4 linked regions of the Homo sapiens genome follow. The protein of the gene in region 4 interacts with the protein of the main gene of each other region in a pairwise test. Each region holds a gene or a part of one and is shown on either strand. Other genes may lie near its edges. The genes, in order: ANO8, TPCN2, GDE1 and ADRA1A.

What was found.
Region 1: the proteins of ADRA1A (region 4) and ANO8 interact in a two-hybrid assay, tested with the Homo sapiens proteins (one large-scale study listed by BioGRID and IntAct).
Region 2: the proteins of ADRA1A (region 4) and TPCN2 interact in a two-hybrid assay, tested with the Homo sapiens proteins (one large-scale study listed by BioGRID and IntAct).
Region 3: the proteins of ADRA1A (region 4) and GDE1 interact in a two-hybrid assay, tested with the Homo sapiens proteins (one large-scale study listed by BioGRID and IntAct).

The regions. Positions count from the first base shown.
Region 1 is NC_000019.10:17,325,900-17,333,744, reverse strand, and holds part of ANO8 (anoctamin-8), read left to right. Parts: coding exon 1-55; intron 56-190; coding exon 191-323; intron 324-505; coding exon 506-644; intron 645-718; coding exon 719-815; intron 816-2,333; coding exon 2,334-2,450; intron 2,451-2,529; coding exon 2,530-2,657; intron 2,658-2,755; coding exon 2,756-2,917; intron 2,918-3,240; coding exon 3,241-3,393; intron 3,394-3,493; coding exon 3,494-3,620; intron 3,621-3,730; coding exon 3,731-3,786; intron 3,787-3,913; coding exon 3,914-3,988; intron 3,989-4,761; coding exon 4,762-5,583; intron 5,584-5,864; coding exon 5,865-6,056; intron 6,057-6,175; coding exon 6,176-6,307; intron 6,308-6,399; coding exon 6,400-6,510; intron 6,511-7,845. UniProt on the Homo sapiens protein: Does not exhibit calcium-activated chloride channel (CaCC) activity.
Region 2 is NC_000011.10:69,063,062-69,070,906, forward strand, and holds part of TPCN2 (two pore channel protein 2), read left to right. Parts: intron 1-833; coding exon 834-906; intron 907-4,441; coding exon 4,442-4,544; intron 4,545-7,368; coding exon 7,369-7,434; intron 7,435-7,845. UniProt on the Homo sapiens protein: Intracellular channel initially characterized as a non-selective Ca(2+)-permeable channel activated by NAADP (nicotinic acid adenine dinucleotide phosphate), it is also a highly-selective Na(+) channel activated directly by PI(3,5)P2 (phosphatidylinositol 3,5-bisphosphate).
Region 3 is NC_000016.10:19,504,452-19,512,296, reverse strand, and holds part of GDE1 (glycerophosphodiester phosphodiesterase 1), read left to right. Parts: intron 1-1,352; coding exon 1,353-1,458; intron 1,459-4,517; coding exon 4,518-4,610; exon of another isoform or gene 4,611-4,642; intron 4,643-7,204; coding exon 7,205-7,416; intron 7,417-7,845. UniProt on the Homo sapiens protein: Hydrolyzes the phosphodiester bond of glycerophosphodiesters such as glycerophosphoinositol (GroPIns) and glycerophosphoethanolamine (GroPEth), to yield a glycerol phosphate and an alcohol.
Region 4 is NC_000008.11:26,854,520-26,862,364, forward strand, and holds part of ADRA1A (alpha-1A adrenergic receptor), read right to left. Parts: intron 4,687-7,845; exon of another isoform or gene 4,513-4,686; intron 4,264-4,512; exon of another isoform or gene 4,174-4,263; intron 3,917-4,173; exon of another isoform or gene 3,835-3,916; intron 1,057-3,834; exon of another isoform or gene 1-1,056. UniProt on the Homo sapiens protein: This alpha-adrenergic receptor mediates its action by association with G proteins that activate a phosphatidylinositol-calcium second messenger system. Its effect is mediated by G(q) and G(11) proteins.

The sequences.
Region 1 (7,845 bases), on a different chromosome or scaffold from region 4:
GCGTGGATGAAGACGGTGCCTACAGAGAACTGCGACGTGCTGATGACCTTCCCAGGTACCCAAGCCCGCCCGCCCGCCCGCCCAGTGCCCAGATGCGGCTCTCCTGAGCTCGGCTTCCCAGAACGGGAATACGTAGGAGGCCTTGGGCCCCCTCGTGGCAGGAGCCATCGGTCCCTGTGCCCCTTGGCAGACACGACCGATGACCACACGCTGCTATGGCTGCTGAACCACATCCGCGTGGGCATTCCCGAGCTCATCGTGCAAGTCCGCCACCACCGCCACACGCGTGCCTACGCCTTCTTTGTCACCGCCACGTATGAGAGGCGAGTCCCCTGTCCCTGGCCTCTCGCTGAGCCTGCCACCCGACTCCCCGCTCTACCAAGTGCCAACCATGCTATCCAGCCGCCCTGCGTTTGTCCCAAAGGCTGCCAGGTGCACCATCCTCAGCTCCAGGATGGTGGGCCGGGGCCTCCCTGTGAGCCCACCTCCTCCGCCTTCTTCACAGCCTACTCCGAGGGGCCGACGAGCTGGGTCTGCGCAAAGCAGTGAAGGCCGAGTTTGGCGGGGGCACCCGCGGCTTCTCCTGCGAGGAGGACTTTATCTATGAGAATGTGGAGAGCGAGCTACGCTTCTTCACCTCCCAGGTGAGGCCGGCTCTGGGCCCCCGCATGCATCCTGTGCCTATGAGTTCCCTGAGCTCACGCCCTCTTCCTCGCAGGAACGCCAGAGCATCATCCGCTTCTGGCTGCAGAATTTGCGTGCCAAGCAGGGAGAAGCACTCCACAACGTGCGCTTCCTGGAGGACCAGCCAATCAGTGAGCAGGGCGGGGTCAACACCAATCACAGGCAGAGAGTTGGGTGGAGCTCTTCAAAGACAGCTTATAGGAGCAGGAGGGCGGGGCCCAGATCCAACCAGTCAGGGGTTGGCAAAGAGTTAGGAAACCAATGAGCTAAAGGGGTGTGGCCTTAGCAAAAGGGTGGAGCTTATCTCCTGAGTTGGGTGGAGCTCTGAGAGGACAGCTTATCAGGACAGGAGGTCAGGGCTTATGTCCAACCAGTTAGGGGTTGGCAAAGGGTTGGGAACCAATGAGCTGAGGGGGCGAGGCTTTGGCCAAAGGGTGGGGCTTATTTCTGGGAGGTGGGTCCAGGAGAGGCCCTTTTCTGGGTTTGGGATAAAGTGGAGGCAGGAACCATGGACAGCACTCCACTTACAGAGTGGTGCGGCTCTGGGCGTTGGATTCCCCTCCAGGAAACTAGGCACCCAAGTTCACCTTCCGACAGCAAGTTTTTACCATTCCTCAGACGTTCGGGTCCACAAACTGAGCTTTATTTAAAGCAGGGGAACAGGCGCAGTGGCTCCCAGTACTTTGGGAGGTCCAGGCGGTAGCATCACTTGAGCCCAGGAGTTCGAGGTTGCAGTGAGCCATGGTAGCGCCACTGCATTCTGTCCAGCCTGGGTGACAGAGCGAGACCCTGTCTCAAACAAATAAATAAATAAAGTAAAAAATAAGGCCGGGCGCGGTGGCTGACGCCTGTAATCTCAGCACTTTGGGAGGCTGAGGCGGGCGTATCACGAGGTCAGGAGATCGAGACCATCCTGGCCAACATGGTGAAACCCCCATCTCTACTAAAAATACAAAAATTAGCCAAGTGTGGTTGGCGCGCGCCTGTAGTCCCAGCTACTCGGGAGGCTGAGGCAGGAGAATCGCTTGAACCCGGGAGGCAGAGGTTGCAGTGAGCTGAGATCGCACTACTGCACTCCAGCCTGGTGACACAGCTAGACCCCGTCTAAAAAAAAAAAAAAAAAAAAAAAGCCGGGCGCGGTGGCTCACACCTGTAATCTCAGCACTTTGAGAGGCCGAGGCAGGTGGATCACTTGAGGTCAGGAGTTTGAGACCAGCCTGGCCAACATGGCGAAACCCCGTCTCTACTAAAATACAAAAATTAGCTGGGCGTGGTGGTGGGCGCCTATAATCCCAGCTACTCCGGAGGCTGAGGCACGATAATCGCTTGAAGGTTGCGGTGAGCGGAGATCACGCCACTGCACTCCAGCCTGGGCGACAGAGTGAGACTGTCTCAAAAAAAAAAAAAAACATGGTTCCTCACCAGAACCCCACTCTCCCAGTTCCTTTACATTCTCCCCGCCTGCCCCTGCACCTACAATTTCTGAAGGAGAATCAGATCTTCTATCCGTCTAGAACTTCTCCCCTGGAAAGAGCTCTAGAGGTTTAAGAGCAGGCAAAAAGCTGTGACTTGGGTTTCAGACAAAGAGGGGCTAGCCAGGCTAGGCACAGGTGGAGGGGCGGGGATCACCTGTGCTCCTCCCTCCACAGTCCCGGAGCTGGCAGCACGTGGGATCATCCAGCAGGTGTTCCCTGTCCACGAGCAGCGTATTCTGAACCGCCTCATGAAGTCATGGGTGCAGGCCGTGTGTGAAAACCAGCCTCTAGGTGCTGCCTGGGCTGGGGGGTGGGAGGGAGTCCCAGCAGACAGGCAGGGGGTGACTGAGACCCACTTGTCCCCTGGCAGATGACATCTGTGATTACTTTGGTGTGAAAATTGCCATGTACTTCGCCTGGCTGGGCTTCTACACGTCGGCTATGGTATACCCAGCTGTCTTCGGGTCTGTCCTGTACACATTCACAGAGGCTGATCAGGTACTGGGCAGGGACCCTGCAAGGTCTGGGGGATCCAGAGGCGCCCTCCTTTCTGGACTGGCACAAACAATGACTCAACTCTTCTCTGCCACTCACAGACAAGCCGGGATGTTTCCTGCGTGGTCTTTGCCCTCTTCAACGTGATCTGGTCGACGCTGTTCCTAGAGGAATGGAAGCGGAGAGGGGCTGAGCTGGCATATAAGTGGGGGACGCTGGACTCACCTGGGGAAGCCGTGGAGGAGCCACGCCCCCAGTTCAGGGTCAGTTGGGGGCTGAGTCCAGGGTCATGGAGACAGGACAAAGGTAAATGGTGGGGGGCACTGCAGGAGCAAAGGCAGAGAGGTGTGAAACAGGATTGTTTCATCAAAGAGGGTATGCCAAACCGAGGCGGGCTCTGTGTGCTCCCCAGGGGGAGAGGTGGAAGTTGGATTTGAGGGACTGGGAACAGTGCCCTAGGTGGGTGACCTGAGAGGGTCACCTCCGCATGATGGAGGGAAATTGAGTTCTGAGGATAGGGAGGGGTGCAGAAGGCAGAGGTGGCCCCTCTGAGCTCATGCTGGGCCCGGTCTTTGCCCACCATCAGGGCGTGCGACGTATCAGCCCCATCACGCGGGCCGAGGAGTTCTACTACCCGCCCTGGAAGCGGCTGCTCTTCCAGCTGCTTGTGAGCCTCCCCCTGTGCCTGGCGTGCCTCGTCTGTGTCTTCTTGCTCATGCTTGGCTGCTTCCAGCTGCAGGTGACCCCCCATACCCTCACCCGCCCTGTCCTTGGTACCTAGCTCCACCTTGGGCTGAGCCCTGCAGCTGGGATGAGCCCTGAACCCCCTTCTCCCGCAGGAGCTGGTGCTGAGCGTGAAGGGGTTGCCCCGTCTCGCCCGATTCCTGCCTAAGGTCATGCTGGCCCTGCTTGTCAGTGTGAGTGCCGAGGGCTACAAGAAGCTAGCCATCTGGCTCAATGACATGGGTACGACCTGCCAGGGGGTCTCTGGGAGGAAGGTCTCCACTGCCCCTTGGGATCCCTGCCACCCTTGGGGGGACCGCGGCTGCCCCCTCACTCCCCCCCTTGGCCCCTAGAAAATTACCGGCTGGAGAGCGCCTATGAGAAGCACCTCATCATCAAAGTTGTCCTGGTGAGTCACCACCATCGGACAGGCAGGGGGACAACGGGGAAGCTGTGCCGTCTGTATGGGGCACAAGGAAGGCTCCAAGGAGTCGGGTGGGGGTGCAGGATGACCACCGCCTGCCTCCTTCCTGCAGTTCCAGTTTGTCAACTCGTACCTGAGCCTCTTCTACATCGGTTTCTACCTCAAGGACATGGAGCGCTTGAAAGAGGTGAGACCCCCGCCCCAGCGGCAGTCCCCCCTGCCCCCATGGCGGCCAGCGAGGGGCCAGACCCGGCACAAGGGGTCCAAGGGCTCTCCAGCCCCTCCCTCCCCTCCTCCATCCTTCTCTCCTGTCTGTCCGTCCGTTGTCCGTCGTCTGTGCGTCCTCTCTCTGCCTGTCGTCCCCCCATCTGTCCGTCCATCTGTCCGTCGGTCCCTTCACAGCTCCTGCTCGTCCTGTCCCTGTCCCAGAGCCTCGAGCGGCAGCTGCAGGCGGTGCTGGTCCCGCTCGCGGCCCTGCGGTTCCGCCTGCTCCTCCTCTCCCTCCGGGGCCTCCTGCTCGCGGCCCGGGCCAAAGTACGGGCAGGTGGCGAGCCCGTGGGTCCTCGCCGGGGTGGGCAGCGTGGCTGTGCTGGGGGCCTGGCGCGCCGAGCTGAGGGCGCATGCGCGGAGGGAATCTGGGGTCGGGGGCGGCCAGCAAGCAGGTGCAGGCGGCTGGGGGCGCACGCGGCCCAGTGCACCGACAGAGCCCGCGGTGGGGTGGAGACGCGCTGGGCCTGCCCGTGAGGTGGGCGAGGAGCGCTGCGCGTGCCAGGCTGTATTTTGTGGCTGAGCGCTGGGGGCCTCGCGTCGAGGCGCGTCCAAAGCAGCGGAGTTAGGAACCGGATTCGGCGTGTGTCTGGGCACGGTGCTCCGGCGGGGCGCCCAGGGAGGGTGAGTCCCCCGATCCCGGCGCCCCGCTTGCCCCCCACGCGCCTCTCTCCTTCCCCTTCCTGCCCCCAGATGCTGGCCACGCTGCTGATCACCCGCCAGTTCCTCCAGAACGTGCGCGAGGTCCTGCAGCCGCACCTGTACCGGCGCCTGGGCCGCGGCGAGCTGGGCCTGCGGGCCGTCTGGGAGCTGGCCCGAGCCCTGCTTGGCCTCCTGAGCCTCCGGCGCCCTGCGCCCCGCCGCCTCGAACCCCAGGCGGATGAGGGCGGGGGCGGCGGCAGCGGGGGCGGGGGCCGCAGGTGCCTCAGCGGGGGCTGCGGGGCGCCGGAGGAGGAGGAGGAGGCGGCGCTGGTGGAGCGGCGGCGGGCGGGGGAAGGCGGGGAGGAGGGGGACGGGCCTCCAGGGGGCAAGGAGGAGGACGAGGACGACGAGGAGGAGGAGGACGAGGAGGAAGAGGAGGACGAGGAGGAGGGCGAGGAAGGGGGCCTCCTGGACTGCGGGCTCCGGCTGAAGAAGGTCAGCTTCGCTGAGCGCGGCGCGGGGCGGCGTCGGCCCGGCCCAAGCCCGGAGGCCCTCCTGGAGGAAGGGAGCCCCACTATGGTGGAGAAGGGGCTGGAGCCGGGAGTGTTCACCCTGGCCGAGGAGGACGACGAGGCGGAGGGGGCTCCCGGCAGCCCTGAACGGGAGCCCCCGGCCATCTTGTTCCGCCGGGCCGGGGGCGAGGGCCGAGACCAGGGGCCCGACGGGGGCCCGGACCCGGAACCCGGCTCCAACAGCGATTCGACCCGTAGGCAGAGACGGCAGAACCGGTCGTCTTGGATTGACCCGCCGGAGGAGGAACACTCGCCCCAGCTCACCCAGGCAGAGCTGGAGAGCTGTATGAAGAAGTACGAGGTGAGGAGGGGGCGGGGCCTCGCAGGGGGCGGGGCCTCGCCGGGGACGGGACACACCGTCCGAGGGTGAAGGCCGTGGGGGTGGGAGTGGTGATAACAGGGCCATTGATGTTGGGATGCTGCAGGAGAGGAAGGCCTAGCCAGATACAGGAAGCCTCTGGGCTGGCTGAGGATGGGGACAGGCCCTGGGTCCACATGGGATAATCTGAGGGAGGCGGGCTCAATGGGAGAAAGATTGTCCCAGGGAAGAGGCTTCCAGGTCTGAGGCCCGCCCACTCGCAGGACACGTTCCAGGACTACCAGGAGATGTTCGTGCAGTTCGGCTACGTTGTGCTCTTCTCGTCCGCCTTCCCCCTGGCGGCGCTGTGCGCCCTGGTCAACAACCTCATTGAGATCCGCAGCGACGCCTTCAAGCTGTGCACCGGGCTGCAGCGGCCCTTCGGCCAGCGCGTGGAAAGCATCGGCCAGTGGCAGGTGGGGGGAAGCCAAGAGATCCGAGCTGAGGCCCAGAGGGAGCCCAGGTGCAGCTGGGAGGAGCCTGGGGTCTGGGGAGGCCGGCTGGACCCCGCCTGAGCCCTCCTGCCGCCCTGCAGAAGGTGATGGAGGCCATGGGTGTCCTAGCGATTGTGGTCAACTGCTACTTAATCGGCCAGTGCGGGCAGCTGCAGCGCCTCTTCCCCTGGCTGAGCCCGGAGGCAGCCATCGTGTCGGTGGTAGTGCTCGAGGTGGGGCCGGCGACAGGGGCGGGGGCAGCTGGGAGGCGAGAGGGCGGCCCCAGCGTCTGCAGCCTGCAGCCTCCTCTCTGCCACCCCTGCAGCACTTCGCTCTGCTCCTCAAGTACCTCATCCACGTGGCCATCCCCGATATCCCGGGCTGGGTGGCCGAGGAAATGGCCAAGCTGGAGTACCAGCGCCGCGAGGCCTTTAAGGTAGGGGGGCCAGGCTGGGCTCGGTTTTCTCATTGGTGGGGCTGCTGGTGGATCTCTGATCTTGGTGGCCAATTCCTTAGCGTAAGGGCAAATGCAGAGACTGCACAGAGCTGGGTATAATAATTAGTGCTCCCTGGCTGGGTGCAGTGGCTCACTCCTATGATCCCAGCGCTTTGGGAGGCCAAAGTGGGAGGATCGCTTGAGCCCAGGAGTTTGAGGCTGCAGCTAGCTATGATTGCGCCACTGCACTCCAGCCTGGGTGATGGAGCAAGACCCTGTCTCTAAAAAGAGTAATAATAAGCAATAATAACTAGTGTTCACAACGGGTCCAGTCGCTTCTGGAATCCTGGCAGCATCCAGCACGAGGCTGGCCCTTCAGAACCTTCAGCCATCCACCAGCTTGCCCGATTGCATCCTGTTAGGGGGCCAGGGACACAGCGGAGGCTTCCTAGAAGCGCAGCTTCTTCCGCATTCCTCAGAAAGCTACAGAATGGGCCAAGGAGCTCCCCAGTGCCTGCACAGGGAACATTCCTCGAGGATGACAATGTCCTTTGTCTGCACTGTCCCTGCAGCCTTTAGCTACAGGTGATAAGTGAGCACGTTGAAGTGCAGCTGCTGCGACCGAGAAACTGAATTTTTATTTTATTGAACAGAGCCTCGCGTGGCTACCTGGGTATAGTCTGCTGCAGCCATAGTCCTTTTTGTTTTTGTTTTTGTTTTTTCTTTGAGACAGAATCTCTCTCACTCTGTCATCCAGGCTGGAGTGCATGGAGTGCAGTGGCACAATCTCGGCTCACCGCAATCTCCACCTCCCAGGTTTAAGCAATTCTCATGCCTCCCAAATAGCTGGGATTACAGGCATGTCCCACCACGCCTGGCTAATTTTTCTATTTTTAATAGAGATGGGGTTTCACCATGTTGGCCAGGCTGGTCTCCAACTCCTAACCTCAAGCAATCTGCCCACCTCCCAAAGTGCTGGGATTATAGGCGTGAGCCACCGTACCCAGCCTGCAGCCACGGTTCTGTCTCTTGCCTGTTCTCTGGGAAGCAGGGGATCGGTTGAGGCTCAGGATTGGTTTCCACTTTACCAATTCCTAAGACGCTGTCTGGCACACAGCCGGGGACAGAGTTGATGGCCAGTGAATGTTTGTTTTCTTTTCAATTCCCAGAAAGTACCGGCGTGGGTCCAGGGATTCATTCAGTTGCACCCAATAAGCCTCGGAATCTCTCTCCAGTTCCCCAGAGAACCTCAGTGTGGGCCCAGAGATGAAGCTGGCGCCCAATACGCTTTTTTTCTTTTTCTCTTTTTTGAGACAGTCTCGCTTTGTCCCCAGG
Region 2 (7,845 bases), on a different chromosome or scaffold from region 4:
GTGGGGCCCACCGGAGTCTCATCTTGGACTGCGTGCTCCGCATCCCTGGCTGGCTGGTGACGGTGTGGGGAGGCTGCTGGGGGGCTTTTGGGGTCTCTTTGGTTCCAGCAGTTCCCCAGAAGCCTCCCAGCAGCCTTCGAGCTAGGGCCAGGGCTGCAAACACCGCGGCCCCAGCTCGAAGGCTGCTGAGTCCCATGGGCACTCTCTCCGATGGGTCTCCTCTTGTCCCCTCTGTGGCTGTGCCCTGCCTCTCCCCTCTGCCGTCCCCTCCCACTCATGGTGTCGGCACGCTGCCAGCCTAGACTTCATAAAGCTGAGCTGTTCCTGACGACACCCCTGCTTGGAAGCCCTCGTGGCTCTTGTTGCCACTAGAAGCGTGGGGCTCTCTCCCTGCGCCCCAGGCCCAGCCTCCATCCAGCCTCGGCTCACCCCTGGTCCCGATCCCCTGCCGCCCTCCGCTCTTGCCAGTGGCAGCGTTGCCCGAGTCCCTAGTGGCTCACGTGCTGACCCCTCACCATCCAGCTCAGGTGGATGGAAGTGGCCTCCCCTCTGAGAGCCCTGGGTCCTTGGATGCTGTCTCAGCTGGGCCCCCAGGGTTTCATTTGTCACTGTCAAAGAAAGGACCCTGCCAGGGCACGACCAGGCCTTTCCTCTGGGCCCCATGAGCTGAGCATGAGGCAAGGCCCTCGGGGAGAGGGGGACCCAGCTGCTGCCTGGATCCACCCCAGCTGCTGCAGACTCTTGGGCGCTCCTGTCACCGAGCCCTGCAGGCAGGTCAGGTGTCCCTGCCTGCCCGCCGCCTGGCCCAGGCTGAGTGCCGTGCTCTCCCCCAGCGTCGGGCTGCTGCTGGCCATCCACCTGTGCCTCTTCACCATGTTCGGAATGCTGCTGTTCGCTGGTGGGAAGGTAGGGCACCCGTGGTCAGGGTCTGGGAATGGGGCTGCCCTGTGCTGTGACTAACAGAGGGGGCTGGGCTGGTGTCTGCTGCCCTGGCCTAACCCATGTGCGGACTCTGTCCAGTAATAGCAGTGGCCCATCTGGGGTCCAGGAGTCTGCCTTTGGGTGGCCACAGTGCTCCACCACCCCACTGCCCAGACACCTGTCTGCCCTGGGGTCTCCTGGGCTCAGGGCCACTTGTCCTTTGTCCTGGCTGTCCGCTCCCACCCTCCTCTGCTCCCTCCCATCCTGACTCAGTTCCCCTATCCTCCTTCCCACTTCCCTCCCCCCTCCCTATCCCCCGCCCCTCCCCGCCCTTCCCCGCCAGGCTATTCACTGAGGGTGGGTCCTCTGGTTTCTCCTCCAGCCCTGTTCATCCTTCCTGACAACCAGGCTTGCCCTGTACCCTCTCTGACTGCAGCCCCCAAGGCTGCGCTGGCCTACTGGGAGGGCCCTCACCTCCCACGCCCTCTCCTGCCACTAGTCTCTCCCACCATATCCTCCTCTGCGGCTGCCCCGGGGCCCAGCAGCTCGTTGCTGTGTGGAGGCGTCTTCCTGTCCCCCAACCCCGCTCCAGTGCTATGTGTTTGTCCTCCTGTCCTGGCCGAGGGCACCATCCTTCTTGGGGCTGGGGCCACGCTGCATCTCTGCTGCTTTGTTGTGGGAGTGGACAGTGCTCAGCCTGCGCTGCTGTTCCTGTTTGTGGCCGTGTTGGGGTTTGGTGTGTGTTGTCCAGAAGGGGAAGGCTGAAGCCCGCGTTCTCACCCAGGGCGGAAGCGGTCATTGAGCCCCTGTGTGGCTCTGCATGTGTGTGTGGAGTCTGCATGTCTGTGTGCATGTTTGTTTGTATGTGTAGGTGTATGGTGTTTATGTCTGTGTGCGTGTTTGTATGTGTGCATGTGTAGTGTCTGTGTGCATGGTGTCTGTATGTCTGTGTGTGTGTTTGTATGTGTGCATGTGTAGTGTCTGTGCATGGTGTCTGTATGTCTGTGTGCGTGTGTGGTGTCTGTGTGCATGGTGTCTGTATGTCTGTGTGTGCGTGTGGTGTCGTGTGTGTGGTGTGTCTATGTGTGCATGCATGGTGTCTGTATGTCTCTGCGTGCGTGGTGTCTGTATGGCTGTGTGCGTGTGCATGTGTGTGCGTATCTCTGTGTGTATGTGTGTGTTTGTGTGCCTGTCTGTGGGTGGTGGGGGCAGCTGGGTTGTGGAGATGGAACCGGCTGACAGAATCTCAGGCCCTCCTCTGTGTGACCGTCCAGTGACCCCTGCAGTAGCGCTGTTTGCCAGAGCCTGTACCAGGTGGATGGCGTCAGTGTGGGTGCTGGAAGTGGCAACAGCCTCGGCCTTGAGGCCAGGGTGTGGTCCTCGACCCCGGGAAAGCCGAGTGTCCCATCCTGAGGCACCTGGAAGGGTTGGCTCCTCCTCCAGGCGTGGGTTTCTGCCCCACGAAGGGGACCTAGGGGAGCAAGGTGTACCTTGTGTGAGGGGTGCGTGCTTGTCGTGGTCTTGGCAGGAGTCTGGATCCCTGTCCGAGGCAGGACTTGAGAGGAGCGTGGGATGGTACCCGGCCCATCCTGCCTTCCTTCCCTGGCCATCATGCCCTGCCACCCTGGCCTGGGGCGGTAGCCAGGCTGTGCTTCTGGGTGCAGCGGCCGCCTTGCTTTAGCTACCTTTGTGAGTGCGGTCCAGAGCCAGCCTGCTTGTCCTCTGCTGGCTTTGCTCGTTGTGAAGCTCCAACCTGGATTGATTTCCAAGAACCAGGGTTGGTGTTGGGGTGTGTGGTCTCCCAGCAGCCGTGATGGTGCTGTCCCATTTTACAGATGTTTCTCAGGTCGGGGCTGTGGGCTGGCTCGGGTCCATCGTCGCTGGTTGTGGCAGGTTGGGCAGGAGCCCAGGGCTCCTCTGTGTCCCTGCAGAGCTGTGGCTTGGGCTGGGCAGGAGGTACGGGAAGTCATGCCTAGGGTCTGGAGCTGAATTGTAGAGGAGGAGCGTGAGGCCTGCTGGGAGGTACACAGTGTGGGGTGGGAGATGGGCCGGGGCAGGGCCACCTGCCTTAGGGAGTTCTGTCGGCTCTATGGACCTCAGCGTCTGTTAGGTGGTGTGCCTCAGCTGGCTCGAAGCCTGGCCCTAAACCTTGCTCCATGGGCGCTCGGTGGGTTGCTTTACATTTGGGAACGTGGTGGTTTGACTGGGTGAGGGTGGGACGGGGGATGCCCGGGAGGCCTGGACCCAGTGCTGTGGTCCTGCCGTCCCCGGTGACTGCTGGAGGCCAGCCTGCCCTCCAGGCCTCGGAAGGCCTTGCTCTGCTCCTCCACTCTGGCTTGGGCTGAGGCCCAGGAGGGGCCCGCCTAGCTCTCCCCAGCAGGGGAGCCTGTCCCTACCCGTGGCTCTGTGCCTGACAGCGCTCCCTGCCTTCTAACTTCCTCTCAGTGGCCCCTGTGCCCCCTCCCCCAGCAGACTGTGGAGTCTTCACCAATTAGCTCACGTGTCCTTGGGAGCCCCTGACTGGACAGACGAGGGGACAGTGCCATTTTATAGGTGAGGCCTTGGAGGCCTCAGTGCTATTGATGCGGCTGTGAGGCAGGAAGGGCGGCCTGTGCGACAGAGAGTGGCCATCACAGGTGCCTCCATGCCAGGGCCTGCCTGCGGGGTTGCCCCTTGGCCAGCAGCTGGGATTGTGGCTTTGAAACGATCCCTAAGAGAGGAGGTTGCTTTGTGTGCCAAGTCCCGCTGTGCCACCTGCCCCCACAGTTCATACAACCAGTCTGGTTTGCGGGAACCACCCATCTTCCAGCTGGGGGGTCTGGAGGCTTGGTAGGCAGAGGGTGCCCATGAGCCTGGCCCCAGTGAGAGCCCCGGGCCCGGAGTCTCAAGCAGAGTTGCTTTCCGAGCAGAAACACTGCATGTGCCAGCTGTGTTTTGTGGCTGGGACCCCTCTCAGGAGGGAGAGAGGATAGGGACTCCGGTGTGGATGCCCCCTTACCAATGGCTGTGATTCGCCACAGCCACGAGCACAGTGCCACTGAGTCCCGTGGGTGGCTATGGGCGGCCGTGGGCCCTGACACACAGCCTCTAGAGCAGGCTTCACGAAGGGTCCAACCTATCTCACCCTGGCAGCCTGGGCCCCTCTGCTCCTCCTGCCCCTCCTGCCTCTGCCCCGTAGCCTCACTGCTTGCACAGTGCATGGCAGAGTCGGCTGCGAGCAGGCGAGGTGGCCTGAGGGAGGTCACTAGGCTGGCTGAGGGCTTTTTGCTGTGGTTCTGAGCCGGCCTGCTTCCAGGCACCGTGTCCATGCGGGTGAGCGGTCTCCCTGGGTGCCCACTCTTGCGCCCGGAGATCCTGAGTTTGGTCCTGTCTGGCCATGAGCTCAGCCTGCTGGGAGGCCACAGGGAGATGCAGGCTGGGCGGCGGGTGGATGGTTCCAGCCGGTTGGGTCCGGGGCCTGGAGCTCAGCCTGTGGGGTGGGGACCCAGTGGTGCCCTGGAGCTGCCGCTTCTGCTCTTAGCAGGATGATGGGCAGGACAGGGAGAGGCTGACCTACTTCCAGAACCTGCCTGAGTCTCTGACTTCCCTCCTGGTGCTGCTGACCACGGCCAACAACCCCGATGGTGCGTGCAGGGCCAGGGAGGGACCGTGGGGGTCGGTGAGCCCAGCACTGGGGGGCCGGTTTGGGCTGCTGAGCCTTAGAACCCAGTGGGAGTTTCTGAGGCCTTTTTTTCGATAAGTGGAGAAGAAAGGGTGACATTTTCCTTCCTCCCCTTCTTTTCCTATCTCTTCTTTTTTTGTCTTGGTTTTCTTCTCCCTCTCTCTTGTCCCTTCTCTTTCCTTCTTTCCTTTTCTGTCTCATTCCTTTGCTTTCTCACTCCCTCCTCCCTTTTTCTTTTCATCTCCTCTTCCTCCTTGTCTACTCACTCCTCTGAGAAGCTGAAAGTGGCTGGTGTTCTTCATAGGGCGATGATGGCAGTGGTCAGAGGGGTCTCCTGGTGCCGTCCTGCTGGAGCTCCACACATCCACGCTGCGGTTGCTGCCGAGGTTCAGCTGTGGGAGCCACTGGGCAGCAGCATGTGAGGGCCAAGGGTCTTACTGGCCACGACGCTCACCCTGTGTGATGCTCATGGGGCCTCCACTGCTCAGGTGCAGGTGTGGCCAGGATGGAGGCCACGGTCCTGGGCTTGGCTGTGGCCCAGCCACCCTGGCTGGTGCCTTTCATCTTGCGGACCCTGAGTGCTGTCTCTTGTGTCCTCTGAGTCCTAGGAAGTGACCGCAGTGGGAGCAGGACCGTCTGAGTCCTAGGAAGTGACCGCACTGGGAGCAGGGCCGTCTGAGTCCTAGGAAGTGACCGCACTGGGAGCAGGACCGTCTGAGTCCTAGGAAGTGACCGCAGTGGGAGCAGGACCGTCTGAGTCCTAGGAAGTGACCGCACTGGGAGCAGGACCGTCTGAGTCCTAGGAAGTGACCGCAGTGGGAGCAGGACCGTCTGAGTCCTAGGAAGTGACCGCAGTGGGAGCAGGACCGTCTGAGTCCTAGGAAGTGACCGCACTGGGAGCAGGACCGTCTGAGTCCTAGGAAGTGACCGCAGTGGGAGCAGGACCGTCTGAGTCCTAGGAAGTGACCGCAGTGGGAGCAGGACCGTCTGAGTCCTAGGAAGTGACCGCAGTGGGAACAGGACCGTCTGAGTCCTAGGAAGTGACCGCAGTGGGAGCAGGACCGTCTGAGTCCTAGGAAGTGACCGCAGTGGGAGCAGGACCGTCTGAGTCCTAGGAAGTGACCACAGGGGGAGCAGGACCGTCTGAGTCCTAGGAAGTGACCGCAGTGGGAGCAGGACCGTCTGAGTCCTAGGAAGTGACCGCACTGGGAGCAGGACCGTCTGAGTCCTAGGAAGTGACCGCACTGGGAGCAGGACCGTCTGAGTCCTAGGAAGTGACCGCACTGGGAGCAGGACCGTCTGAGTCCTAGGAAGTTACCGCACTGGGAGCAGGACTGTCTGAGTCCTAGGAAGTGACCGCAGTGGGAGCAGGACTGTCTGAGTCCTAGGAAGTGACCGCAGTGGGAGCAGGACTGTCTGAGTCCTAGGAAGTGACCACAGGGGGAGCAGGACTATCTGAGTCCTAGGAAGTGACCGCAGTGGGAGCAGGACTGTCTGAGTCCTAGGAAGTGACCGCAGTGGGAGCAGGACTGTCTGAGTCCTAGCAAGTGACACAGGGGGAGCAGGACCGTCTGAGTCCTAGGAAGTGACCGCAGTGGGAGCAGGACCGTCTGAGTCCTAGGAAGTGACCGCACTGGGAGCAGGACCGTCTGAGTCCTAGGAAGTGACCGCAGTGGGAGCAGGACCATCTGAGTCCTAGGAAGTTACCGCAGTGGGAGCAGGGCCGTCTGAGTCCTAGGAAGTGACCGCAGTGGGAGCAGGACCGTCTGAGTCCTAGGAAGTGACCGCAGTGGGAGCAGGACCGTCTGAGTCCTAGGAAGTGACCGCACTGGGAGCAGGACCGTCTGAGTCCTAGGAAGTTACCGCAGTGGGAGCAGGACCGTCTGAGTCCTAGGAAGTGACCGCACTGGGAGCAGGACCGTCTGAGTCCTAGGAAGTGACCGCACTGGGAGCAGGACCGTCTGAGTCCTAGGAAGTGACCGCAGTGGGAGCAGGACCGTCTGAGTCCTAGGAAGTGACCGCAGTGGGAGCAGGACCGTCTGAGTCCTAGGAAGTGACCGCACTGGGAGCAGGACCGTCTGAGTCCTAGGAAGTGACCGCACTGGGAGCAGGACCGTCTGAGTCCTAGGAAGTGACCGCACTGGGAGCAGGACCGTCTGAGTCCTAGGAAGTGACTGCAGGGGGAGCAGGACTGACTGTGGGGAGGGCTGCAGGGAGGTTTCAGCTCTGTGTGCAGAGGGACATCCTTGATAGGTAGGGAGTTCCCCGTCCTGGAGGGTGTGCGAGCAGAGGCAAGAGATCGAATTTGGACAGGAAGGCCTTTCAGCCCTCCCAGGAGACCTCCTTTCTTTTTTTTCCTTTTCTTTCTTTTTTTCTTTCTTTCTTTTTTTTTTTTGTTTGAGATGGTGCCATGCTCTGTCACCCAGACTGGAGTGCAGTGGTGCAGTCTCGGTTCACTGCAACCTCCACCTCCCAGGTTCAAGTGATTCTCCTGCCTCAGCCTCCCGAGTAGCTGGGTTTACAGGCATGAGCCACCACACCTGGCTAATTTTTGTATTTTTAGTAGAGATGGAGTTTTACTATGTTGGCCAGGCTGGTCTCGGAATTCCTGACCTCAAGTGATCCACCCGCCTCAGCCTCCCAAAGTGCTGGGATTACAGGCGTGAGCCACCACGCTCAGCAATGGAGACCTCCTTTCTATTGCAAAAGCAAATAGTGTAGCGTCAGGATGGGAGTGGGATCAGGTACTGAGGTTGTCAGTTTCTGTTATTTCTTTTTTCTTTTAGTGATGATTCCTGCGTATTCCAAGAACCGGGCCTATGCCATCTTCTTCATAGTCTTCACTGTGATAGGTGAGTGCAGGTAACGTGGCCAGCATTTTGTGACAGGATCCCGAGAGCTCAGGGACCGATACACCCTGCTGCCTCCACGACCTGAAACTTCACATCCGTGTTTTTCACTCCAGAGATCACCCCAGGGATCCCCTGCCAACAGCTTTTAACCCCAGAGATCCCCCACCAACAGCTTCACCCGAGGGATCCCCCACCCCACGGCTTCACCCCAGGGATCTCCCGCCAACAGGTTCACCCCAGGGATCCCCCACCAACAGCTTCACCCCAGAGATCCCCCACCAACAGCTTCACCCGAGGGATCCCCCACCAACAGCTTCACCCCAGGGATCTCCCACCAGCAGCTTCACCCCAGGGATCCCTCACCAACAGCTTCACCCCAGGGATCCCCCACCAACAGCTTCACCCCAGGGA
Region 3 (7,845 bases), on a different chromosome or scaffold from region 4:
AACCACAATGAAGTACCATCTTATCTAGTTAGAATGGCCATTATTTAAAAGATTTTTAAAATAACAGATGCTGGCGAGGATACAGAGCAAAAGGAACTCTTATATTCTGTTGGTGGGAATGTAAATTAGTACAGCCATTATGGAAAACAGTATGGAGGTTTCTCAAAAAACTAAAAATATAGAACTACCATACAATCCAGTAATCCCACTAGTTGGTATCTATCCAAAAGAAAGGAAACTAGTGTATCAAAGGCATACTTGCACCCCCATGTTTATTGCAACACTATTCACAATAGCCAAGATACAGAATCAACCTAAGTGTTCATCAGTGGATGAATGGATAAACTGTGGTAAATATACTCAATGGAATACTATGTAGTTAGCCATAAAAAAGGATGATATCCTGTCATTTACAGCAACATGGATGGAACTGAAGGTATTATGTTAAATGAAATAAGATAAGCCAGGCACAGAAAGGCAAATATTACATGTTGTCACTCATATATGGGAGCTAAAAAAGTTGATCTCATGGAGGTAGAGAGGAGAATGATAGTTACCAGAGGCTGGGAAGGGTTTGGGGTTGGGGGAAGAGGAGAATAAGGAGAATTTGGTTAATGAGTACAAACATACAGTTCGATAGAAGGTATAAATTCTAGTGTTCAATAACATAGTAAAGTGATTATAGTTAACAATCTGTTGTATATTTCAAAATAGCTAGGAGATTTAGATGTTCCTAACACAAAGAAATGATAAATATTTGGGGTGATGGACATCCTAAATACCCTGATTTTATCATTATACATTATGCGCATATCACAAAAATATGTCTAAGTGTATAGCAATAAAAATGTGGAAAAAAGAATATCTATAATTTGGTTCAAATTATTACAGTAGGACAGGCGCAGTGGCTCACACCTGTAATCCTAGCACTTTGGGAGGCCAAGGCAGGTAGATCACTTGAGGTCAGGAGTTCAAGACCAGCCTGGCCACCATGGTGAAACCCCGCCTCTACTAAAAACACAAAAAATTAGCCAGGCGTGGTGTCACACGCCTGTAGTCCTAGCTACTTGGGAGGCTGGGGCGGGAGAATTGCTTGAACCTGGGAGTTGGTAGTTCCAGTGAGCTGAGATTGCACCACTGCACTCCAGGCTGGGCAACAGAGCAAGACTCCGTCTCAAAAAAAAAAAAAAAAATCTTAAAGTAAAGTATCTTTGGACTTTGCTATGGTCGAAAAAAGGAAGTTGGAGAAAACACTCTTTCCTTTTGATTGAGAGACATATGCAAAATGTTTGTTGCAATACAGTTTATCTGTTTCTCTTTTTTCCTACAACGTATTTTCTCTTCTCTTACAGGAATGATTTCCCTGATGAAAAGATCCCTACCCTAAGGGAAGCTGTTGCAGAGTGCCTAAACCATAACCTCACAATCTTCTTTGATGTCAAAGGCCATGCACACAAGGTACAGTTTAAATTGTGGACTTCACTTTGTTAAAAAGACATCTTATTTCATTGACGGTCATTTCCGAAGTTACATATATTTTGTTATTTATTCTTTTTAAAACTTATTTTTATAAATTGTATTTGTTTAATGGAAGTGTACAATGCAGGAATCTATATCATTTAAGGAAACAGTGCATTATGGAACTTTTTAACCTTTTATGGAAACTTTACAAAACCAGCATAAAATGGAAGAGTCAAGTTTCTATTATTTACATAAAGCATTTACAAAAGATATTAAGTAAACAGTAAAAAAGACATTTCTAGAAAAAAACCACTGTAGTAACCTTGAGTTACTTGAAAAAAAGGAATTCCGAAGTTGTACACAAGACCAATTTTATCTAGCTTAAAAGTTAAGGGCCTTATATGGACAACTATGGACTGCATTTAAAGAGAATTCCTATATTAAAAGCTTCTAATAGTTAACAGAACATATACCTTTTACATAGATTTATCCCTTTGTATAATTTATATCCCTTATGTATAGTTTTTTATTCATTGATTTTAGCAGTTATACTTTTATCAGAAAATCATTTATTTTCTTCAAATGTATTTGACATTCCTAGATAAAATTTTGCTTAAATTTTAGGGCCTGCACTTACACTCATAAGAACATATTATTACAGTGAAAATCAGTGGGAAGATATGATTCTGATTACATTTGTTCTCTTATAACCAGCTTTTCAAGTGCAAGTACTTTTTTCCCCATTTGGGCAACTTGAGTATTTTTCCCCTAGCAATATTAATAATCGGTAAGGGCCATCTACTGGTTGAGAATTCTGATGATGCCAATTTTTTTTTTTAATTAATCCCATGATATCATTGAAACCAGTTGTTAAAACCCAAAATGGGCCGGGTGCAGTGGCTCACACCTGTAATCCCAGCACTTTGGGAGTGGATCACCTGAGGTCAGGAGTTCGAGACCAGCCTGGCCAACATGGTGAAACCCCTGTCTCCACTAAAAATACAAAAATTAGCTGGACTTGGTGGCGGGCACCTGTAATCCCAGCTACTCGGGAGGCTGAGGCAGGAGAATCGCTTGAACCGGGGAGACAGAGGTTGCACTGAGCCGAGATTGCGCCAGTAGTACTCCAGCCTGGGTGACAGAGCGAGACTCCGTCTCAAAAAAAAAAAAAAAACCTGAAATGTGGAGCCTAAGTATACACTCTAATTTTATTAACAGTTAATTCCTATTTTTGAAGAAGGAAGATAATGGTAACTAATTTATTATTCTAGTAAACCGATAGTTGTATACGTCTAGGTTTTCCAATTGGTCTGCGTTAGAATCACCTGTACCTATTTTAAAATATAAATTCCTGGGCCATTCTCCCTAGGGAAGAGATTCTGAAAATGTCTAGGGTGGGCTCAAGGAACATGTATTTTTAATGAGCACCTCAGGTGCTCATTGTTGATGTTGCAGCCCACATTTGGGAACCCTGATAGGTCCTACATTTCACCCATGGTATACTGACTTTTATGCTTATTCTCTTAGATTTTTTGAGACAGAGTCTCACTCTGTCACCTAGGCTGGAGTGCATTGGCGCGATCTCGGCTCAATGCAACCTCTGCCTCCGGGGTTCAAGCAATTCTCCTGCCTCAGCCTCCCAAGCAGCTGAGATTAGAGGCATGTGCCATCACACCCGGCTAATTTTTGTATATTTAGTAGAGATGGGGTTTTGCCATGTTGGCCAGGCTGGTCTCAAACTCCTGGCCTCGAGTGATCCGCCCACCTTGGCCTCCCAAAGTGCTGGGATTACAGGTGTGAGCCACCACGCCTGGCTTCTCTTAGAATACTTTTTAAAAAGAAGTAGACATTTAAAAAAGAAAATCTAGCTATTTGAGTCTTCTGAATGGGTGCTCATGGGTGTTCAGCCAAGACTGGGTAGAACATAGTGACCTAATTCACCAAGATGGTAGTAGAAAGGCACAAGTGTAGGCAACAAAGTGGAGCTAGTAGAGCACAGTGGCCAAAATCATGGGCTTGGGACTCCAACAGTCCTTGACTGAGCTCTTACTACAGGGTAACCTTAACTTTGATGAGCTTCAGTTTCTTCATGGGTAAAATGGGGATACTAAAAGCAGTTACCACATAAGGTTGTTGTGAGAATTAAATAATGTAAATGCTAAGAGTTTACAGTGCATGTCTTTGTTCAAACAGAAAAAAAAATGCTTTCTATAGCTTGCCTTCAGTTGCATTAGCGAAGAGGAGGCATGACATGGATAATTTGTGTCCTTTTTTATTTTGGTGGGGGAATGCATTTTGCTCATCATATTTGGTTAGGGGTATGTGTAACATTCCAAAAATTAGCAGTGTTTCACAAATTATGCAGCAGCAGCATTGCGTCCCACATGGCTGGTGACTTTCTTGTTGTTAGCTGCTATTGATGTCACTTCACTAGGGGTTACCAAATAATACTTAAATTCTATCATGTCTTCTTCATTTCGTAGCTAGACTACTATAAAAAGAAACTTCTGTTCACCTTGGGAAGAATTGGGAGCCCCTTAACTCTTCCCAGTCCCTCCTACCCTTGCCCCATTACTTCTCCCTCCATATTGGTGATGGGTAATGCGTCCTCTCAGTCCCCTGGACTGAGAAATCTATCCTCTGTAGTTCCCAGACTGGCTGGCTCATGTTTCATTTAGAAAAGGCACAGAGTGATAGAGCTGTGGGTATGAAAGGACTTTTCATAGTGGCTAAACTAGGGTATAAGGCAAGGAAAATTTTGCCTCTGGCCTCATCTGACCTACGGCTTACCACACTTTTCAAAAGTATTCCAAAAGGGGTGAGGCCCTCAGAGGGAGTAAAGCAGCAGTACTCCACCTTCTTCCTTGTTTGCTGCTGGTGTGAGTTTAAAATGCATCCCAGTGGATAATAGACTCTACCAATACTTTCAGTACCTCCATTTCTAGTAAACTTCTGTTTTATTCCATAGGGTTGTACTTAATATGTGATAGTTATTGGCTGGGGCTATCTATCACATTTTAATCAATTTTAAATATATGAATCTCTTTATTTTACAGGCTACTGAGGCTCTAAAGAAAATGTATATGGAATTTCCTCAACTGTATAATAATAGTGTGGTCTGTTCTTTCTTGCCAGAAGTTATCTACAAGGTAACATTCGGGATTTTTCTTGTACATATTAGGTGAGCTGGTGTAGATAATTGCAATGGGCTGCGTAAGCACAGGATAGATGCCTATTAAATTGAACTGCATCAGGGTCACAGTTGAGAAGCTCCTCTTTTAAATTAACCAGAGAAATTCCAGAAGGGGAATGTACTCATACCCCTTACAGAATGCCATTATTCCTCTTTTGCCCCTTCTTTTATGTTGTTTATAGGCTCACTCAGATTACTGTAGTAAAATTCTCACAACAGAAAAGAATTATGTAGCCCCTACTTCTCACCAACTAACAGCAGAACATACCTTCATAAAATAAATTCTTAATTATGGAGAATCTAAAACATGCATAAAATAAAGTAGTAGTGTACCCCCCCTTTAACTGTGATCCAGCTCATTTCACCCATAACCCCATTGATCCTCCCCAGTGTTATTTTGAAGCAAATCTTATTCCATCCATAAAATTGCATTAAGAATCTTTAAAAAGTGATGCCATTTTATTTATTTATTTATTTATTTATTTATTTATTTATTTATTTTAAAAGACGGGTTCTCCCTCAGTTTCCCAGGCTGGAGTGCAGTGGTGTGATCACAGCTCACTGCACTCTTGACCTTCCAGGCTCAAATGATCCTCCTGCCTCAGCCTTCCAAGTAGCTGGGACCACAGGCGCACGTCACCACGCCCAGCTAATTTTTTATTTTTATTTTTTGTAGAGACAGGGTCTCCCTGTATTACCCAGGCAGTTCTCCAACTCCTAAGCTCAAGCAATCCTTCCACCTCAGCCTCTCAAAGTGCTGGGATTACAGGCATGAGCCACAGTAACCAGCCTAGTGATGCCTTTTTAAAAACATAGCCACAATGCCATTGTCCCATCTAAAAATTATTAACAATAAATTATTCATATCATCAAATATCCAGTGTATAAATTTTGACTTGTCTCGGAAATGTCATAAATGGTTGTTTTTCATAAATTGCTCATTCGAATAGGACCCAAGTAAGATCGGCGTGTTACAATCGTAAATCTTTTTTTGTTTGTTTTTGAGACGGAGTCTTGCTCTGTCGCCCAGTGGTATGATCTCGGCTCATCGCAACCTCTGCCTCCCGGGTTCAAGCAATTCTCTTGCCTCAGCCTCCTGAGTAGCTGGGATTACAAGCACACACCACCATGCCTGGCTAATTTTTTTTGTATTTTAGTAGAGACGGGGTTTTGCCATGTTGGCCAGGCTGGTCTCGAGCTCCTGACCTCAGGTGATCTGCCTGCCTCGGCCTCCCAAAATGATTACAGGTGTGAGCCACTATGCCCTGCCGGCAACTGTAAATCTTAAAACTTGCAGGTTCTGTCTCTCTCTCTCTCTGTTTTTTTTGTTTGTTTGTTTTGGGGGGGGTCCTTGTTTTGTATTTACTGAAGAAACCGGATTATTGTTTTGTAGAGTTTACCCAAGTCCAAATTTTGCTGATTATGCCATGATATGGCTTAATATTTTTTTCTCTTTATTTTCTATAAACTGGTAGCGAGAGCTGGAAGCTTGCCTTGATGAGGTTAGGGTTGGTTATTCTTGGCAAGATAACTCTAGAGATGAGGGTGTTTTTCCGTCAGGAGGCACTTGACATCTGGTTGACTCCTGTTGTTTTTGGCTGCTATTGATGCTCATTGGCCAGATCTGTCCATTTTCTAGGGAGCTACAAAATGCTGATATTTTAATTCTATTACTTCTTGCATTAGCTGAAATAGATCTTTAAAAAGAAACTTTTCCTCCTCTACTATTTAGTTACCAAATAGGCAGAATAAATGCTTTATCTTTCCTTTTATTTACCAGTTTCCAGAATAACAAGCTGGTTCCGTAGCATTCTTTACCAGTGACCAACAGAGCATACATTGAAAATTTTTACAGTGAGGATAGAGCCTATCAATAGAAGCTGTCATGGAGTTGAATAGGGTCATGGGGCTTGCAGACATTTGGAACAGTGTTTCCCAAACTTCCTTGACCACAGAGTCCTTTAAAACGTATAAGACATTCCCCCAGAGGAGCACAAGAGCAGAGACTAAAGGAACTCCATCCACATCTCTCCATTTCTCTGTTGTCCTCTCCCATTCTCTCGTCACAATCCCTTCTCTCCCTTCCCACCTCACTTCCCCATCCCCCTCCTCACCCCTACAACTCTTCAGCCATTTGCTCTGGAAAGGGTCAAAACTAAACAGCCCATCTTGAACTGACCTTGGTTCCCTCCTCATTGAGTTCTAATTAATTATCTCTGGCCAGGATTTAAGTCAATAGCCAATTAAAAGTTTATTCTCATGACATTATTAAAATTTGATCCTGAAGTTTTAATTTTTCCATTTTAAAGATAGGATTGCAGTTTTTAAGGACTGGGAAAAAAAAGTTCTCATATGTGCTGCATATTAGTGCTTTACATTCTTCACATTATTTTCTCAAAGGGTTTATGATTGAGAACTTATTTAGTAGATACCGGGGCAGGGTACCAACCATGACCACCTCATCTGATTGAGCACATTGGCTAAATCTAAACTAATAAGTATTCAACTTTACATATGATCATTATTTTACTTCCCCAAATTCCTTTGCAGATGAGACAAACAGATCGGGATGTAATAACAGCATTAACTCACAGACCTTGGAGCCTAAGCCATACAGGAGATGGGAAACCACGCTATGATACTTTCTGGAAACATTTTATATTTGTTATGATGGACATTTTGCTCGATTGGAGCATGCATAATATCTTGTGGTACCTGTGTGGAATTTCAGCTTTCCTCATGCAAAAGGATTTTGTATCCCCGTAAGTTGGAAGGTTTTTTATTTTACCCAGACAGACATCCTGAATGCTCTTATTTGAAAGGAAGGATTAACAGAGTAGACAACCTGAATTGGTTCTGACCTGCAAAGCTTACCATACCTCTAAATTGGATTACCAATTTCGCTTCTTAGGTGGGAAGAGTTCAGGCATATTTCACTGTTTTCAGACCGAGTCGATCACATATTTTCGGTTTTTTAGTGTATTTTGAAGAAAAAAAATGAACCTGTGACACTATGCTGAGCAAGGGATTTTATTTCTGTGACTGGTTTTTTTGAAAGCCAACACAGGATCCTGGGCAGAACCACAGTGAAGACATCCTGTGGGCACCAGCCTCCCCACTACCGTCTTATGTTATAGGCACTCCCCCACCTCTCCCCATAAAATTTCCATTTCCTAACCTGCTAGCGATCT
Region 4 (7,845 bases):
CCAGTGTGGTGGGGTAGAGAGTGTGGTGTGGAAGGAACCCACCAGGCTCTCTGTGCCCTGAGACTGGGATGGAAACATTGTTGAGAATTTGGTGCAGGAGGTTGTCAAAGTTGTTCACAGGGCTGCAGGGACAAAGTGACTCCCTGGCCAACAGCAACAGAGCCAGTGTCACTGGAGCCAGGAAACAATGGAGTCATAGTCAAACCCTCTCTGACTACTATGACATTTGTAAGCCCCTAGGCGTGGTCAGTATCTTAGAGGGCAGATCTGAAAGGCCCTGTGCTGTGGTCTGAATGTTTGTGCCCCACCCCCGAAATTCCTATGTTGGAATCCTGGCCCCCAGTGTGATGATATTAGGAGATGGGGCCTTTGGGAGGTGATGCAGAAAGAGGCCCCAGGGAGCTGCCTCACTCCTTCCACCAAGTGAGCACACAGCTAGAAGGTACCATCCATAAAGATGAAGGTAGGTCTTCTTCAGACACTAAATCTGTTGGTACATTGAGCTCAGACTTCCAGCCTCGAGGATTGTGAGAAATAAATTCCTGTTTACAAGCCACCCAGTCTATGGCATTTTATTATAGCAGCCTGAATGGACTAGGACACCAAGGCATCCAAGAGACTGAATATGCAAAGATGATGCATAAATTATTGGATTTGAATGAGTTTATTAAATTTAACTAAAAGTGTGTGTGCATGCATGTGTGTGTGTGTGTGCATGTGAGTGCATGCATATGTGTATTTCCATGGAAGTTTGTAGAAAAGATCACATCCGTTTTTGGAAAATAAGCTACATCTTCTTGGCACATTTGCATATAGTGTGAGAAGACTGGCAACCCAGGATTTGTGATAAATAAGTAATTATTTATCTTCAATGTATAAAATGAGCTTACCGATAAAAAAAAAAAGACAGAAAAACTGCTGTATAAAAAGTGGCCAAAAAGCACAGATAGGAAATTTCACAAGAGGAGAAATATAAGTGATGGATAAAAATATAAAAAGAAATGTTCAAATAAGAACACATGACACGGGGAGGGGAACATCACACACTGGAGCCTGTTGGGGGTTGGGGGGCAAGAGGAGGGAGAGCATTAGGACAAATACCTAATGCATGCCAGGCTTAAAACCTAGATAATGGGTTGATAGGTAAAGCAAACCACAATGGCACATGTACACCTATGTAACAAACCTGCATATTCTGCACTTGTATCCCAGAACTTAAAGAAAAAAATAAGAAAAGAAAAGAAACATTCAAATAGCGAAGAAATAGAAAACATAAAAATGAAAAGCCACTAGGCAAGTGTCAAACTGGCAAACCAAATAGCAGGGCTAAAATACAGTAAACTTGTTAGACAAAGAAAATGCCTTAGAAAACTGTCCTCATATCCACCATGAAACCATGAGGTGACAGAACACAGCAATGACTTTGTTACTAAGTGACTAAGGATTATTACTCCATCCAAGTAATAACTCACTTGTCTATAGCCTGACTTGAAAGAGTCAGCTATTGTTCAAAGCATTGTTAGAGCTCATTGTTGATGTCTTCTGAGCCTGCAGCACGTTCTTTTGAAAATGATGGTAAATCTTCATTGACAGATTTGTCTTGTGGAAAGAGCCAAAATTAATTTAAAGCCAAGTCTGGTTATACTATTTCTGATCACGAGAAAGCTTTTCTCATAAATCTAAGCTCTGAAGGCAGTGACAAAAGAGGCATTCCAGAACGATGTGGCAGCTCACGGAAATAAGTTTTTTAAATGGCACGGTAGAAGGATTGCACTTGGCAGGATACAGCTCCCCTTGTCCTGCATAAAGGTCTCCCAACTGGTCTATCCACAATCTTGTTTTCACTAAGCCTTTGATAATCTTGAAATGCTGTATAAACTCTATCATGTCATTCCTGCTCATCTTTGGATAAAAACACAAACTTGTATAATGGCTATAAAGCCTTGTTTAGTCTGGTTCTTCCCTTTCCAGCTTCACTGGACACCAGTTATCTCTTGGCCTCTTGTTTCTGGCCACAGTGGCCTTCTAGAAAGTCATTATGGACATTAAGCCAGCCCCACTAAAGTCTTCGCACGTTCTCTTCCCTCCCTCCCCATTTTTGCCTTTAAACACCTACTCATTCAATAGATCTGGACTTAATAGTCAAGCCCTCCTTCCCAGAAAGACCTTTCTACCCTCCCAGTCCAGGACCACCCTTAGCCACAGGACATATTTTCAAGGCACCATTTATGTTCCCTTCATTGCTCTGTACACGGTTTTCGATAACTTAGTGTGGCTATCTGATTAATGTCTATCTCCTTCTGGAGATTAGAAGCCTGCAGGGAGGCAAAGATCCCAGTTGGTTTTACTCAGTGCATTGCATGAAGCCTGGCATATGGGAAGTTCTCAATATAACTGATGGATTAAAGAGAAATGTAATTTGGCACACTTGTGAGGTCGGTGATCTGCAAGAGGACTACAATGATCTGCCCCTCTGTGTACACACTTGCTGCTCTCCCATCAAGAGATGAGTCTGTCTCGCTTCCCCTTGAACCTAGGCTGGTCTCCTGACTTGCTGTGACTGCAGAATGAAACAGCAGTGATGCTGGACCAGGTGTGAGCCTAGCTCTTCAAAGGCCTCACAGTTTCTGCCTTGACTTTCTTGGGGGAGAGCTGCCATGCTATAAGAAGGTGGTTTAGAAGGGAACAGAGGCCACCAAGACTCACAGCCAGCTTCAATTGCCAGGCAAGCTGGGTGCTGACGTACTTTTGACCATAGAATCATGAGACATAGATGGCTGCTGCTTTAAGCCACTACCTTTTGGGATGGTCTGTGGTGTAGTAAGAGTAACTGAAACGCTGGCTTCTTATCTTAAAATAAATTCTAGCCAGGTGTGGTGACTCATGCCTCTAATCTCAATGTTTTGGGAGGCTAAAGAAAAAGGATTGCTTGAGGTCAGGAGCTCAAGACCAGCCTGGACAACACAGCAAGATCCCATTTCTATAAAAATAAAATATAAAAATTAGCCAGGCATGGTGGTGCATGCCTGTAGTCCCAGCTACTCAGAAGGCTGAGGTGGGAGAATCACTTGAGTTCGAGGCCGCAGTGAGCTATGATTACCACTGAACTCCAGTCTGGGTGAAAGAATGAGATCCTGTCATTAAATAAATAAATAAAATAAAATAAATCCTAATGGCACTAGTTTTTCTTCACACCATTATCTCTAAGAGGTGAACCTTTTCCATGAGAACTAGGGAACTGCTCCCTTTGTACCTGCAGTGAAGCAACCCTCAACCCCTGGTTATCTTGGGCATCCGCAGAGGGTTTGGGATTATCATATATCATTGTATGTACTTGTCCTTTTTCCTTGTCATTTTTCATATACCTTTGCTAGGTATCTAATTGTTCAGATGTTCTGCTCCATTAGGGCAGGGATTTATTTGTCTTTATCTCCAGTGATTCTATAGCTTCCTGGCAAACAGTATATGTTCAATGAAACTGCTGAATGAATGAATGAATCATTCTCTGCCTCATTGCCTCCACCTGATAAATCCACTGCCAGCTGTGCCCTCCTCAAACATCCAATCTTAAAACACATTTTTCTGCTCTATCAATGTGCTGCCTCCTGTTCTTTTATAAACATAATCCTCAAATATTCTATGTCTATGTAAGCCACATCTCAGCCCAATGCTGCCTCCTTTGATTCAGTGGCAACAGCAATCAATGGCTTAGGTCCTATAATAACGCTGGGTTTTGTGTTTAAATCAGATAACATATCCAGAATTCAGACACGTAACTATGTTTTCAGTGATTGTTGCCTTTTCATCTTCTTTCCAATGCTTTCTATTTCTTAGAATGCCAAGGACATCCACCCCTCATGGCAACATCTGCATGTTGACATACATCAGTAATGGTCTGTGAATCATTTGAATTCTGGTAAGATGAACATTTATTACCATTTACTCTGAGTTAGGCACTATGCTGGGCAGCTGACCTATATAACATCCCCTGTTATATGAAAAAGAAAGCCTAGGTTTAAATCTCAGGCCAACAGTTTCTCCATTCAGCAGCACACTGCCTCTGGAACTAGTGGGCTCTAGACAATGAGATGAAATCAACAAAGATGATTCATAGGCTTTAGATGCTGGAGCTTCCTGAGAAGCAGAGTTCTTATCCTTCCTTCTCTTTCGTAGGTTGAAGGCTGACACCGTCATAGTCTCTCTACTCATCTCCATGGCCAAAATTTGCTTTTGAAAGCATTTGCTCCAAAGTATAAATGACTGTTAACAACTGCACATGGCACCCCCCTCCCTTGAAGGCATTCTGAATTTCAACCAAACATTTAGGATGCAAAAATGGAACAAGATTAGCAAGATTTAGACTTGGAAGCAGGCAAGTCAGATTCCTCCCAACAGTCATGCTATTCAATGCAGCAAGCAACCCAGCCTTAGTGGAAAGAAGCTTGGGAAAAGGGAACGTGAGACTTCTCACAATATACAGGAAGGACCTTTGCAGTCAAATAGCCTACTCACCTGATTTTCCTGGGTCAGTCCCTATTAAACATGGGTGTTTCACTTCTCAGCTGTGGATAGCACACTCATCCCTGCCCTGGTTTCAGTTTTTAATCTCTTTCCTCTCCCGCAGCCTAGTGCAGACCGACAGCCCTTTTCTCCAAAACAGCACGTCATATTTAAGAATGTATGTCCCTTGAATATAATAATATGATAGTATATTTATTCTTCTGCTCACATTTTGCATGAAAAACATACTTAAGACAGTTAATAAAAAAACATATAACATCTCGTTGACGACCCAGCAGAAGTAGTGCCATCTTCTTTAAGTCTCTGCTCTGTCAATGGTCATGCATGTAGAAGCTTCTCAGTGACCTCTCGGCACAATGAACTGCTATATTCCTTAGCACACTGTAATAATATCATTCTGAGCACCATCCTGAGCACCATGTAATAATATCACTCTGAGCACCTATGTCATAGACTTGCAATAATTGTTGACAATTTGTCTCCTTAACTAGACTGTGAGGCCCTTGAGGGCACTGTGTTTTATTCATCTTTTTTATTCTGTGTAGCTGAGAGCCTGGTGCTTATTACATAGCCAGTACATTCTTGGAGGAAATCATCTCTTACTCAATTGGTGTCAGGAAGAAATTGAGAGCCACAGACTGGCAGGTTCAGGGATCCTTTGCACTACTGAGCAGCTACTCAGACCCTGTGAACTGTATGTTCCCTACTTCCCTCCTGTCATATCATTTTTCTTTTTTTTTTTTTTTTAGACAGAATCTCGCTCTGTCACCCAGGCTGGAGTGCAGTGGTGTGACTCAGCTCACTGCAACCTCTGTCTCCCGGGTTCAAGCGATTCTCCAGCCTCAGCCTACCAGGTAGCTGGTATTACAGGCGTGCACCACCATGCCCAGCTAATTTTTGTGTTTTTAGTAAAGACAGGGTTTCACCATGTTGGCCAGGCTGGTCTCGAACTCCTGACCTCAAGTGATCCGCCTGCTCAGCCTCCCAAAGTGCTGGGATTAGAGGCATGAGCCACCGCGCCTGGCACCTCACTAGGATTTAAAAGAAGCCCAGTGATTCCGAGGGCTCCTGTCTACCACCACTTCTCTCCACCACAACATCTTCTCCTCCACACTGCTGACTCCCTGGGAGAGCAAATCCAAGAGCGGGCTATGACTAGTCAGAGCATCCACCTCCCCTAGATGACTCCAGGACCCAGGCCATTGTTTCTCATCTCTATGCATAGCTCAGCCACCACTGCAAGCTCCAAACTCTCAGGCCACCCATCGTCACCTGGGCTCCTTCTACAACCTGGCTGTGGATGCTCCCTAACCTGACCGAGTCTGTGTCTCTTCACACACACACTCTCTGGGACTCACAGTAGGTCCTCAGCATTGCCTCCTGTATCCCTCAGCTGCTTAGCTCTTAGAGAAAAACACACAACCCTCCTTCCCGCTGTACTTTAATGTTATGACCGTAAATCTCAGATAGGCCTTCAGGACTTCCCAGTGACTCTACCAAACTTCCATAAAATGTTTACTGTCCCACTCTCAAAGATGAATCTTTCACACCTTCTCTGAGGCTAAAACTGCCATCGTTCCCCATTCCTGACTCTCTCTTAGCTGATGACCTTGCTTCATATTTCACTGAGGACATAAACATATCCTAAAGAGATCACTATCTCTCTCCCTCTGTCTCTACTTGCCTCAGGGCTCACACACTTTGCTCTCCTTGTCACTTCCCAATGCTCCCCTTGGGCACTGAATCCCGTTGCCTCTTTTGCCTATCCCATCAGTGCCTCTCTCTATCCCATCGTTCCCATCAGAATATAAATATCATGTCATATCCCCACCTCCCACCATTGAAAGCTCTCTCTATACCCCTCCAGCTACACCGCATCTCCTAGCTCCAGTGTATAGCAAAACCTTTCAGAAGAGTTGTCTATTTTCCCTGTTCCCACTTTTTTTATCCTTTGTTCTTTCTAGAAAGTACACAATCAGGCTTTTGGTTCCATCACTCCTCTGGACCTGTGAGCCTCACGTGCCTTCCTCCTATCACTAAAAACCTGCTTACTGCCAAATCTAGTGTTGGCTCCCAGTCCTCCTCTAACCTGACCTCTCAGCTGCATGTGACACAGCTGATTACTCCTGCCTTCTTGAAACATTTTCACTAGGCTTCCAGGACATCACATTCTCCTGATTTTTCTTCTCCCTGGCTACTCCTTTGCAATCTTGTTTGCTGGCTGTTTCTCCTGTTTTTCCTGACCTGACCCCCAGAGGCTCTGTTTTTTTTTTTTTTTTTTTTAGATGGAGCCTCGCTCTGCACCCAGGCTGGAGTGCAGGCATGATCTCGGCTCACTGCAACCTCTGCCTCCCGGGTTCAAGCGATTCTCCTGCCTCAGCCTCCCAAATAGCTGGGACTAAAGGTGCAGAGGCTCTGTTCTTATCTCTCTTTACTCTCTTTATCTTTTCTCTTGTCAACCTCTCCATTCTTGTAGCTTTAAAGATGTTGATATATCCCAAGTTTATATCTGTAGCCCGCCTCCTCTCTAAGCTCCAAATCTATGTAAAGTGTATAACTCCCTACTTGCCATCTCTACTTCCATGTCTAATGAATGTTTCTCAACACAGTGATACAAAAGAAAGGCTCATACTTCTCACTCCCTGCAGCCCCTTGCAGCCACATAACTCTTTGGTTTTGCCAGTTTTAGTGAAGTGCATTACTATTTACTCAGCTATTCAGGCCCTAAACCTACCTATTTCTCACACCCTTGTCCACACTCATCAACTTTACCTGTAAAATAAGTGCTGAATGTGATCACGTCTTACCACCTCTACCTGTCTCACCTGAGTCCAAGATGTCATGACCTCTCTCCCCTCGACTTCTAATAGCCTTTTAACTAGTCTCTGCTTCTGCTCTTGCCCCCAAACAGCCAATTTTCCCCCCAACAACCAGAATGATCCTTCAAAAATATAAATGAGACTGGCCACTCACCTGCTAAACACCCTTGAATGACTTCCCACCACAATTAGAATAATATGCAAACTTTACTTTGGCCTGAAAGACCCCATATGACTTTGGTGTTGTCTATCTCTCCAATCTCTTCTTGAACTTGACTGCCCCCTCCCTGTCTGTAGTTGAGCCATACTGGCCTCTGTGATCTTCATTGAACAGGTCAGGCTCTTTCCCATCTCTGTACTCGCTGCTCCCTCTGCCCAGGAAGCTCTTCTTCCCAGATCTTGCAAGCTTTGCTCTTCAGTCCAGTCAGGACTCTGCTCAAATATCACCTCTTTAGACAGAATTTTCCCCACTACCCACTAAAGCAGGCCCTCATTGTCTTTGTCA